Regions from separate parts of the Homo sapiens genome. Here region 2 is linked to region 1. Evidence: fine-mapped expression QTL. Tissue or cell type: tibial nerve. Region 1 holds a variant in brackets; the other region holds the start of a gene. All regions are shown on one strand. Distances are from middle to middle.

Region 1 (5,390 bases):
ACAACCCTGCCAGCACCTTGATCTTGGACATCCAGGCTTCAGAAGAGTGGGAAAATAAATTTCTTTTGCTTAAGCCACCCAAGTCTGCGGCATTTTTTATGGCAGTCCAAGCAGATTAATACACACATCTTATCATCAGTTGGAAATACAATATGATTCCATAACTTTGAACCATCCAAAATTATCTAATCATTGTACTGGAAGTCACATTCCTTTATTTAATAATTGATTAGATCACTTTTACTCTTCCTACAACCATTTTTGTATCATGCTGTATTTGTTCGTTGGGAATGAAAGTTTGTTTCCTATTATAAATACTGCAATGATTTTATCTCATTTCCCTGTCTAGAAAAATGAATCATGGAGGGACATTAACATTAAACAATAATTTTGGCAAATAATACTTTGTGTTTTAAGAATGAAGGCCATAAATTGCATTAATAACTTCACTCTATTAATCAGTGCCTCTTTTCATTATAAAATAAATACATATACACACATTAAATTACTCTATTGAGGGAAGGAAAAGCATTTGAATATGTGTTTCTGCATGTGGGGTAGTTATTAAACAAAAAAAATTTAAAGAAATAGAACATTTTTAAATTTTAAAAATATATAATGGCATATTTAACAGTTACGAAACTATGCTATGTTTCTCATGAAAAATGAATATAATAATTGCAGAGTGAATAAAAAGGGAGAATAAGAAATGTATGTGAGCATGTCTCTTTCCTAAAAACTTACACACAGAAGTTCATTGTGTAACTAACCATTGCTGAATGACTGGATTTGTAATCCAAGGAATGTTCTCTGTATCACTAGTGAAAGTAAGTGGAGCTCAAACAATGTGACACAAATCTGAAAAACCATAACACTTAGTTTTTGGTTGCTATAACAAATCACTATAAACTGGGTAGTTTATAAACAACTTACTTCTCACATTGCAAGAGGTTGACAAGTCCAAGATGAAGATGCAGTACATTAGGTATCTGGTGAGTGCCTGCTTACTGGTTCTTGGGCAGTGATCTTTTTGCCCCTGTCTTCACATGTTGGAAATTGGGAATGAGCTCCTTTAGTTCTCTTTTATAAAGGCACTAGTTCCATTCATGAGGCTCAGCTCTCATGACCTAATGATCTCCCAAAGGCCCTACCTTCTACTACCTTGGGGGTTTGTATATAATACACAAATTTTGAGAGATCACAAACATCCAGATCACTTCACTTTGATAGATTGAATCACCTTAATATGAGAATAATGCCTTCCAGAATTACCTGAGGCCTGAAAAGAGCATTAAGTATAATCAGCTGCCTTTAGTCTGATGAAAATTTGTAATTTCCATTTCAGAGGCAAGAAGCAGAGCTGTCAAGTGACTTAGATATGGTAATACAGCTAACAAGTCATCACTTAGGATTTAGAATGCCTGTTTTCTTTATCCATGTTGCTGCTTATTCAGTGAGTGGTTTTTCCCACTTTATACTGTATTTATATGTGGTAACGCTATTTGTGAGCTTTGGGGAATAGTTATGTACTGAATAAACACTTATGCAAGTTTATATTAATCACATTATTTTTCAACTGTGTGTTCCATTCTTTCTCAGAAAAATAAAGATGGTACGTTTTTACCAAATCTAAGTGACATGGTCAGTCATTAATTAGTAAAAAAAAAATTCCCAAATGCACAAAATCCTTCCTTTTTCTAAATAGGATATTATTTCTACTTTACAAAGCTAATAGCTATAGCTTCTCTAGAGACAAGTCCAACTGCCCAAAATGTGGCAAAATTATAATGAAAAGATAACTTTTAAAATGTACCTCATTAGTCTTTAGTATATATCTATGAAGGAGGTAACTGTTGGCTTAAAATGTATATAGGATGAGAGCTTGAAAAAAATTAGAGGTAAAGTTAATATTCTAAATGTTACAGTTTATATGTTAAAGAGAGATTTGGGCTGGAAATAATTTGGAAATTATGTAGATTAAATTAAAAATATTTTATACAAAACATCTTTGCCAACATTCTCAGGTTTTTCATTTGTAATATTTTCTTAAAGAAACAAAATGAAGTAAAATGACTGTAAATACTGTAGTAAAATAATTTTTTAGAAACGTTATAATTTCCATTATAGTATACTAATTACTACCATAGTAATATCCACAGTTTAAAAATTTTTCCATTTTGATAAGTGAAAAATATTTTATTTTTGAAATTTACATTTACTTGAGGTAAATTACTTTCAACATGTGATTTAATGCCCAAACTAGCATGAAATGCAAAAGTAGAAAAATTTGCAAAGTTTCAAATATTTTTTTTTATTATTATTATACTTTTAAGTTTTAGGGTTCATGTGCACAACGTGCAGGTTAGTTACATATGTATACATGTGCCATGCTGGTGTGCTGCACTCATTAACTCGTCATTTAGCATTAGGTATATCTCCTAATGCTATCCCTCCCCCCTCCCCCACCCCAGAACAGTCCCCAGAGTGCGATGTTCCCCTTCCTGTGTCCATGTGTTCTCATTGTTCAATTCCCACCTATGAGTGAGAACATGCGGTGTTTGGTTTTTTGTTCTTGAGATAGTTTACTGAGAATGATGATTTCCAATTTCATCCATGTCCCTACAAAGGACATGAACTCACCATTTTTTATGGCTGCATAGTATTCCATGGTGTATATGTGCCACATTTTCTTAATCCAGTCTATCATTGTTGGACATGTGGATTGGTTCCAAGTCTTTGCTATTGTGAATAGTGCCGCAATAAACATACGTGTGCATGTGTTTTTATAGCAGCATGATTTATAGTCCTTTGGGTATATACCCAGTAATGGGATGGCTGGGTCAAATGGTATTTCTAGTTCTAGATCCCTGAGGAATCGCCACACTGACTTCCACAATGGTTGAACTAGTTTACAATCCCACCAACAGTATAAAAGTGTTCCTATTTCTCCACATCCTCTCCAGCACCTGTTGTTTCCTGACTTTTTAATGATTGCCATTCTAACTGGTGTGAGATGGTATCTCATTGTGGTTTTGATTTGCATTTCTCTGATGGCCAGTGATGGTGAGCATTTTTTCATGTGTTTTTTGGCTGCATAAATGTCTTCTTTTGAGAAGTGTCTGTTCATGTCCTTCGCCCACTTTTTGATGGGGTTGTTTTTTTCTTGTAAAT[T/C]TGTTTGAGTTCATTGTAGATTCTGGATATTAGCCCTTTGTCAGATAAGTAGGTTGTGAAAATTTTCTCCCATTTTGTAGGTTGCCTGTTCACTCTGATGGTAGTTTCTTTTGCTGTGCAGAAGCTCTTGAGTTTAATTAGATCCCATTTGTCAATTTTGGCTTTTGTTGCCATTGCTTTTGGTGTTTTAGACATGAAGTCCTTGCCCATGCCTATGTCCTGAATGGTAATGCCTAGGTTTTCTTCTAGGGTTTTTATGGTTTTAGGTCTAATGTTTAAGTCTTTAATCCATCTTGAATTAAGTTTTGTATAAGGTGTAAGGAAGGGATCCAGTTTCAGCTTTCTACATATGGCTAGCCGGTTTTCTCAAATATTTTTTTCTAATGCTTCAGTTTTTAGGAAGCTACCGGAAAATACATCCCACAGAAATGAGAAAGCAAATTACAAGAGAAGAAATTTCTTAAAATATGGATCTTAACAAAAGATAGTTGAATGGTAAATTTGGATAAATAAATAGACGATGTTCAGGAAAATGTCCGAGTCATTGTTGTCTCTCCTGTGCTATCACTCTTTCACTGTGAAAAGCCCCTGGGACTTAGAATCTGTCTAGAGTGTAAAGAGTTATAGAAAAATCTTGAGTTGGCTACAGAAATTTACAAATAAATGGGATTAATCCAAACTGGCAAGGTTTTTTGTTTTTTGTTTTTTTATGTTTGACAGAATGGAAATGTATTGTAAAAGCAATGCAGTTATAGTAATAAAGTTACGTATTTTAATATTTGTGTTTATTTTCTAGAAAAATATATATCAGGTCCTATATTAGTGTTCTCCTGAGGAACAGAACACTATATATATATAAAGAGATTCATTATAAGAAACTAGATCACATAATTATGGAGGCTGGAAAGTCCAAAATCTGAAGTGTGACCTGAACCATCAGGCTTGAGACCCAGAAGATCTGATGTTTCAGTTTCATCTGAAAACTTGCAAGCAGAAATCCAGGAAAGCTGATGTGCAGATGAAGCCTGAAGGCAGTGTGAGAGGCTGGTCTTTGTGTTCTATTTAAGCCTTCAGCTGATTGGATGAGGCCCATCCAAATTATGGAGGCCAGTCTGCTTACTCAAAGATCACCAATTTAAATGTTAATCTCTACCATCTCACACCAGTCAGAATGACTATTACTAAAAGTAAAAAGACAACAGATGCTGGTGAGGCTGGGGAGAAAATGGCATGCTCATACACTGTTGGTTTAAATATAAGTTAGTTCAGCCATTGGGAAAGCAGTGTGAAGATTTCTCAAAGAACTTAAACTAGAACTACCATTCGACTTAGCAATCCCATTACTGGCTATAAACCCAAAGAAAACTAAATCATTATACCAATAAGATACATACACTCATATGTTTATCACTGCCCTATTTGTGGTAGCAAAGACGTGGAATTAAACTAAGTGCCCATCAATGGGTGTACTGGATAAAGAAAATGTGGTACATATATACCATGGAATACTATTCAGCCTTAAAAAGAATGAAATCATGTCCTTTGCATTAAATGAATAGAGCTGGAGGCCATAATCCTAAGAGAATTAACACAGGAAAAGAAAACTAAACAGTACATGTTTTTATTTATAAATGAGAGTTAAACATTGAACATTTATGGACATAAACATGGGAACAATAGACACTCCTAACTACCAGTGGGATGAAGGAAGGAGGGAGATGTGGGTTGAAAAACTACCTATTTTACTATATGCACCATCTGGGTGCAATATACCTATATAACAAACCTGCATGTGTACCCTGTGTATCTAAAATAATAGTTCAAATTGAAAAAATAAATATAAAAATAAATAAATAAATAAATGTTTATCTCATCCAAATACACCCTCCGAATTGACACCTAAAATTAACTATCATAGATCCTTTGTTCAAATACTTGCATGGAATGTTTTCAGAGGTGAAACATGGGTGATGCTAAAGCTGATTCTTTTTGTTTTTGTTTTTCTTTTTTTGGTGCAGTGACACAATCTTGGCTCAGTGCAACCTCCACCTCCTTGGCTCAAGGGATCCTCCTGTCTCAGCCTCTTGAGTAGCTGGGACTACAGGTGTGTGCCACCACATCCAGCTAAGTTTTGTATTTTTTGTAGAGATAGGGTTTTGCCATGTTTCCCAGGCTAGTCTCAAACTCCTGGGCTCAAGCCTATACTGAAAGGCAGAAAT
Region 2 (5,387 bases), 34 kb before region 1:
GAACTTACCTCTGCAGCTTGTCCCGCTCCTGTTCTGCCTGCTGCTTCAGGTTTCCAAGTTTCTGAAACACCCTGTCAAGCTCCTGCTGAGTCCCTGTCTTACGCTCCCTCACCTCTGCAGAAACCTCCGCCAGATGCTGCAGATGCTTCTCCTGCCAGGAGTGAGCATGCAGACATTATGCATCAGATGTTGAAGTCTTAGAAACTCCCTCCAACCCCTCCAGCCTACACCCAGCTCAGGGCTCAGGCTCAATGATGAAAAGAGGGACTCTATTCACTTCAGGGTGGAGTAGGGGCCTAGAGAAAAGGAAAGATCAGAATGAGCTGTTCTAGGGTGAGGCATTCTTGCGGGGAAGGGGCACAAAGGTGATAACACTTATTTAACTTGCTATGTGCCAGGTACTATTTTAAAGTCCTTGCTGTAATGATCATTTAATCATCTTAATAACTCTCTAGAGTAGGTGGTATTATTGCCTTCATTTTAAATAAAGAAACAGAAAGTTAGGTGACCTGCCCAAGATCATGCAGTGGTAAGTGGTGACACTGAGATTCAAGCCCATGTTGGTATTTATATTATAGTGCCTCAAAGGAGGAAGCAAAACGGTTTTCTAGACAGGGGACACAGCCGATACAATGGCATGGTGGTGGGAAGGGATATTCTCCTAGGGGGACGAACCTACCTGTTGTAGCTGCCACTGGTTCTGGACTGCTCTGCGTTTCTCCATGGCCATTTGTTTCTACAGATAAGCAAGGGAGAAAGACCAAGAGAAGTCTATTTTTTCTGGCTAGAATTTTGGGAGATTGCAAGCTGGCACAACTCAGCTTGCTCACTCTTTCCCTCTTCCTTTCTAACTGCCCTTCCCTCCCTGTACTCAAGACCCCTGGGTGTACCTTGGCCTGGAGCTGCTCAAAGGCTTCCCGGAGTTGTGTCCGTTTCCTCTGGGCTTCCTCCATCTGAGTCAGGGCCTTGGTGAGGCCAATTTTGATGGCCTCTACGTGCTCCCTGTAGGTGGCCTTCAGCTCTTTCCATTGTTCCTTAGCTGCAATTGCCTTCTGTCCTGAGATGAGCCACCAGGAATGAGTACATGAGTGAGGGTGGCCTGCTAGCCTGCCTCCCTGCAACACTGGGCCTCCTTCCCATCAGCCAAATGGGAGACCTAACTGAAATCCTCCTTCCTTCCCCACTCAGGTCAGCTGCTACTACAATCCCCTGCCTACTCACGGCTCGTGTCTTCAGAAGCCAAGGGGTCGAGACCCTTAGCAGTGTCCTCCTGAGCCAGGATGTTCTGCAGGAAATCCGCTACCTGAAGCTGGCTGCAGAGCAGCTTGTCTTTCTTCTGAGAGTCCTGCTCAGAGGGAGGGCAGAGACAGGGAACATCCTTACCTCCTTACAGGTTTCCTTAAGTCTGCTCTCTGCCAGTGCTGCCCTGTATCTCAGTAAGAGGAGCCAGGACCAGACCCTGGCTTCTGAAAGGCTCGCTCTCATCTTGTACATACCACCACAAACTCAACCAGGATCTTGGCTGGCAGTTCTGCCTCCTCCTGCAGGCCTACAGGTTCCAAGATGCCTGCCACCTCAGCCAGGACCCTGGAGGGGCAAGGAAACACAGGAAATTGCAGTTTCTTGTGGTGCTAGTTCTACAGTTCGTGTGTGTACACAAACAAATGTGGATGTGTATATCAGTATATATAGTATTGAGAGTCTTGCCTTGACCAGAGTTTACACAAGGGCCTGAAGGGTCCACAGCCTGCAACCAGGAATGGCGTGCATGGAGGGCACACGGTGGTAATACGTGCCAAAAGGAAAATCAGCAGGGCTAGTGGATAAGGAGTTTGAGAAAAGAGCTGAAATTTTAAATAGGGAGTGTCTCACTGAAGAGAAATCATTTGAGTCAAGATGTGAAGGAAGCCAGGGAGATATGCAAGGAAGGGGAAGAATGCTGGGCCTTGGGATCCCTCCTGGCGCTGAGCACCAGCCTTGGGGCAGAGTCTTGGAATAGCTGAGAAAGGACTCAGGGCAGAGGGCTGGATGCCTCGGTCTACTCTAGGGTTTTTCATTATTAGGGACTGGAGCAATCTACGAAGGGGCAGGGATGGGGATGAGAAGTGACTGGGAATGTGTCGTGTTGGGACAAGAAGACAGAAGTGAAACCGTCTCCTAGAGCACATCCTGTGGATTATGTGGATGTGGGGAGCGGCGAACGGTCCCCCAAAGGCTGTACTCCTGGAGCAGGCAACAGACACCTCAGGAACCTAAGACGGGACTGCGGTGAGGATCACTTCACGGCAGGGTCGAACCTCAACAGCTGTACAGGGTCGAGGGCACCAATCATTACACATAGGGGCCCACAAGGTCCTCCCAGGCCCGGCCCCAGCTGCCACTTAGCCGCAAACACTTACTCTAGGGCTGCAGCTTCCGCCTCTGTCTCCGCTGCCTCCATCTTTCCAGGCGCCGAGTTCAGCTGCCTTCCCACAATCCCTAAGATTACTTTGAAGTCACAGTCGACTTCGCGCCGGGGCAGGCGATTGGCTGCAGAGGTTAGTGGGCGGGCATCAAGGACCATTGTGCGCTCTAATTGGCAGGCGCGGATTCGCTCGTTGGCGGGCCTCGCTGCTTGGCGCAAGCGCGGTTATGGCTAGGCGCGCACGGGCTCTGCGCCTGCGCGCTAGTCCTTACGCGGTGCCAGAGACTATAAGTGGGCTTGAGCTCGACCGCGCGCCTGTGGAAGTTCTTTCTCTACTCGAAAAAGGGAAAGCATTTCCTTGAGTTTGCGTTTTAAGGGAAACTTACAGCATTGACACTTTATTTAAAATATTCACTACTGCTGTAGAAAAAAAAAAACAAAACCCCGAAAAACAGTGGGGCTGTTTCTAAGACGCTGGGAATCAGTAAAGAATAGTGATCCGGGAGATACAGGAAGCAAATGATCTGCGCTCAAAAAGCGAGCTGCTTTCAAAGATATTAGTATTTTATAGATGCGATGCAGGAGAGTGAACTCAAGCAGAGCCCAGCCGATTGCCTGCGTTGGCAAAATAGAACAGATATTCTGGGGAGACCAAGGTAGGTAATGTTCTTTGCAGAGTACAGGAGAAAGATAACTGCTGAGAGAGAACTTGGTATTCATTCAGCTGAGTACTGAGCAGTATGTGTCTCAAGAAACTAGCTAAAAGATTTTTAAAGATACCAGGACATGGCCGGTCGCGGTGGCTCACGTCTGTAATCCCAGCACTTTGTGAGTCTGAGGCAGGTGAATTACGAGGTCAGGAGTTTGAGACCAGCCTGGCCAACATGGTGAAACCCCCGTCTCTACTAAAAGTACAAAAAAAATTAGTTGGGCGTGGTGGTGGGCGCTTGTAATCCCAGCTATTCGGGAGGCTGAGGCAGGAGAATTGCTTGAACCAGGGAGGCTGAGGTTGCAGTTAGCCGAAATTGCGCCACAGCACTACAGCCCTGGTGACAGTGCGAGACTCCGTCTCACAAAAAAAAAAAAATACATATATATATATATATAAATATATATATATGGACATTACAGAGGGTCAGAAATAGTCTCTATTTCCACTAACCAGGCTGGAAAACTTCATAGTCCGTAGGACACTGGACAGAGTACACACAAAAAAGTCTTGATTTGATAGTTGTTTACTAATTATTTAGTAGGCAGTAATTAGTCCTAGCTGATCAGTGCTGTAGTGCCATCTAACTCTTAAAAGTAAGACCCAAATGGATCAAACTTAACAAACCATGACAGATGACAAGACCAAACTTCAGCAGTATTTATAGAAATAGAAAAATGTTCACCAAAGGTGCAATTTACATATGTCATACAAAGAAAAATTACCAAGCTTGCAAAAAGAAAAAAAAAAACACATAATGAGGAGAAAAATCAATTGCTGATCAGAACTGAAGTAATGTTAGAATCAACAGGCAAGGACATTAAAACAGTTATTGTAACTATATCCCATATCTTCAAAAAGATATCAGAACTATAATGAAAAAGGTAAGTGGTGCTAAGGATGTAAAGAAAGTGGAATTCTCATGTTGATGGAAATGTAAACTGGTGCATAGGCTTTGAACGTAGGGTTACCATATGAGTCACAATTTCATTCCTAGTTATATATCCAAGACAAATAAAAACATGGGGACACAAAAGTACACAAACCTCTATAGCAGCATTATTCACAAAAGCTGAAAGGTAAAAACAACCCAAAGGCCCATTAGCTGGTGAGTGAAAATGCATACTTTCATTCAATGAAGTATTAATCAGTAGTAAAGAGAACTTTATTACATGCTAAATAATGGTTACTACATGCTAAAATATGAACCTTGAAAATATACTAAGTGAAAGAAGCTAATTACAAAAGACCACATAATATATTATTTCATTTATGTGAAATGTCTAGATTTGACAAATCTATAGCAACAGAAAGTAAATTTATATAGTGCTTGTCCAGGGCTGGGGATTGGTGGGAATGAGAGGTTGAGAGAGTATGGGGAGGGACTGCAAATGGATATAGTGTTTCTTTTAAAGGGATAAATAAAATGTTCTACACTTCGGTTATGGTGAAGGTTGTACAATTCTATACAGAAAACCGCTAAATTTACACTTTACTGCTGTCATAAAAGCTGTTAAAAAAGTTAATCAAAGACACAAAGCTTGTAATAAAGACCTAAATCAAACTTGTAGAGGTGAACACTACAATGTGATAGATGGAATTAGATGGTATTAATATAGTATGTTACACATTGCAGAATGAAAGTGAAACACAGCTCTAGAGAAACTACCCAAAATCAATCACAACATTAAAAAATGAAAATAAAGTAACATGAACAAATCAATGGTGAGCTGTGAGACAACTTCTAACAGCCTAATAATATACTTGAAAGTGGAGTCTCAGAGAGGCAAGGGGAGAGGACAAGAAAACAAGTAATAAAGACCAAAAAATTTGAAATGTGATGAAAAATATAAATTCATATATTCAAGAAGCTTCACAAATCTCAAACACAAGAAATATTAAGAAAATGACATCAAGTTATACCATAATTGCATAACTCAAAACCATTGATAAAAAATTCTAAAGTAATAAGGGGTGTTGGGGCACATGTTACATAGAAACAAAGATAAGGATTACGGGAAATTTCTTCTTGGAACAATGCAAGCAAGACAGTAGAGTAACATCTTTCAAGTACTGTAAGAATAAAAAAAAGTCAACCTTGATTTCTGTTTCCAGCAAACAGCTTTCAAAAATGAAGACTAACTAGGCTGGATGCAGTGGCTCACACCTATAATCCCAGCACTTTGGAAGGCCGAGGTGGGCAGATCACGAGGTCAGGAGATCAAGACCATCCTGGCTAACACAGTGAAATCCCCCGTCTCCACTAGAAATACA

Direction of the effects. Positions count from the first base shown, and alleles are read on the strand shown. Sizes are in standard deviations (SD) of each study's normalised expression.
For the expression in tibial nerve of the gene that starts at base 2,463 in region 2, T is the high allele of the variant in region 1 and C is the other (large effect, 0.92 SD a copy in GTEx).

The links. PIP is the estimated chance that this variant, and not a neighbour inherited with it, causes the effect.
Region 2: it holds the start of ZWINT, and the variant in region 1 is fine-mapped to the expression of ZWINT in tibial nerve (GTEx, PIP above 0.99). The same link has a PIP of 0.9 or more in breast and cerebellar hemisphere.

What each region holds. Positions count from the first base shown.
Region 1 is chr10:56,392,434-56,397,823 of GRCh38, forward strand. No RefSeq gene overlaps it. Among named protein-coding and RNA genes, the nearest start is that of ZWINT, 34 kb to the left of the region's middle. The variant T/C (reference allele first, on the strand shown) is at 3,172.
Region 2 is chr10:56,358,797-56,364,183 of GRCh38, forward strand. It overlaps ZWINT (ZW10 interacting kinetochore protein), which reads right to left and starts at 2,463. Exons shown (of 9, transcript NM_007057.4): 1 at 2,400-2,463; 2 at 1,497-1,587; 3 at 1,222-1,345; 4 at 891-1,057; 5 at 680-736; 6 at 9-151. The coding sequence starts at 2,440. LOC124902546 (a long non-coding RNA gene) reads left to right here and starts at 2,663. Exons shown (of 2, transcript XR_007062372.1): 1 at 2,663-3,060; 2 at 5,229-5,387. RefSeq lists enhancers at 348-1,547, 693-1,433, 2,173-2,912, 2,261-2,430 and a silencer at 2,521-2,730.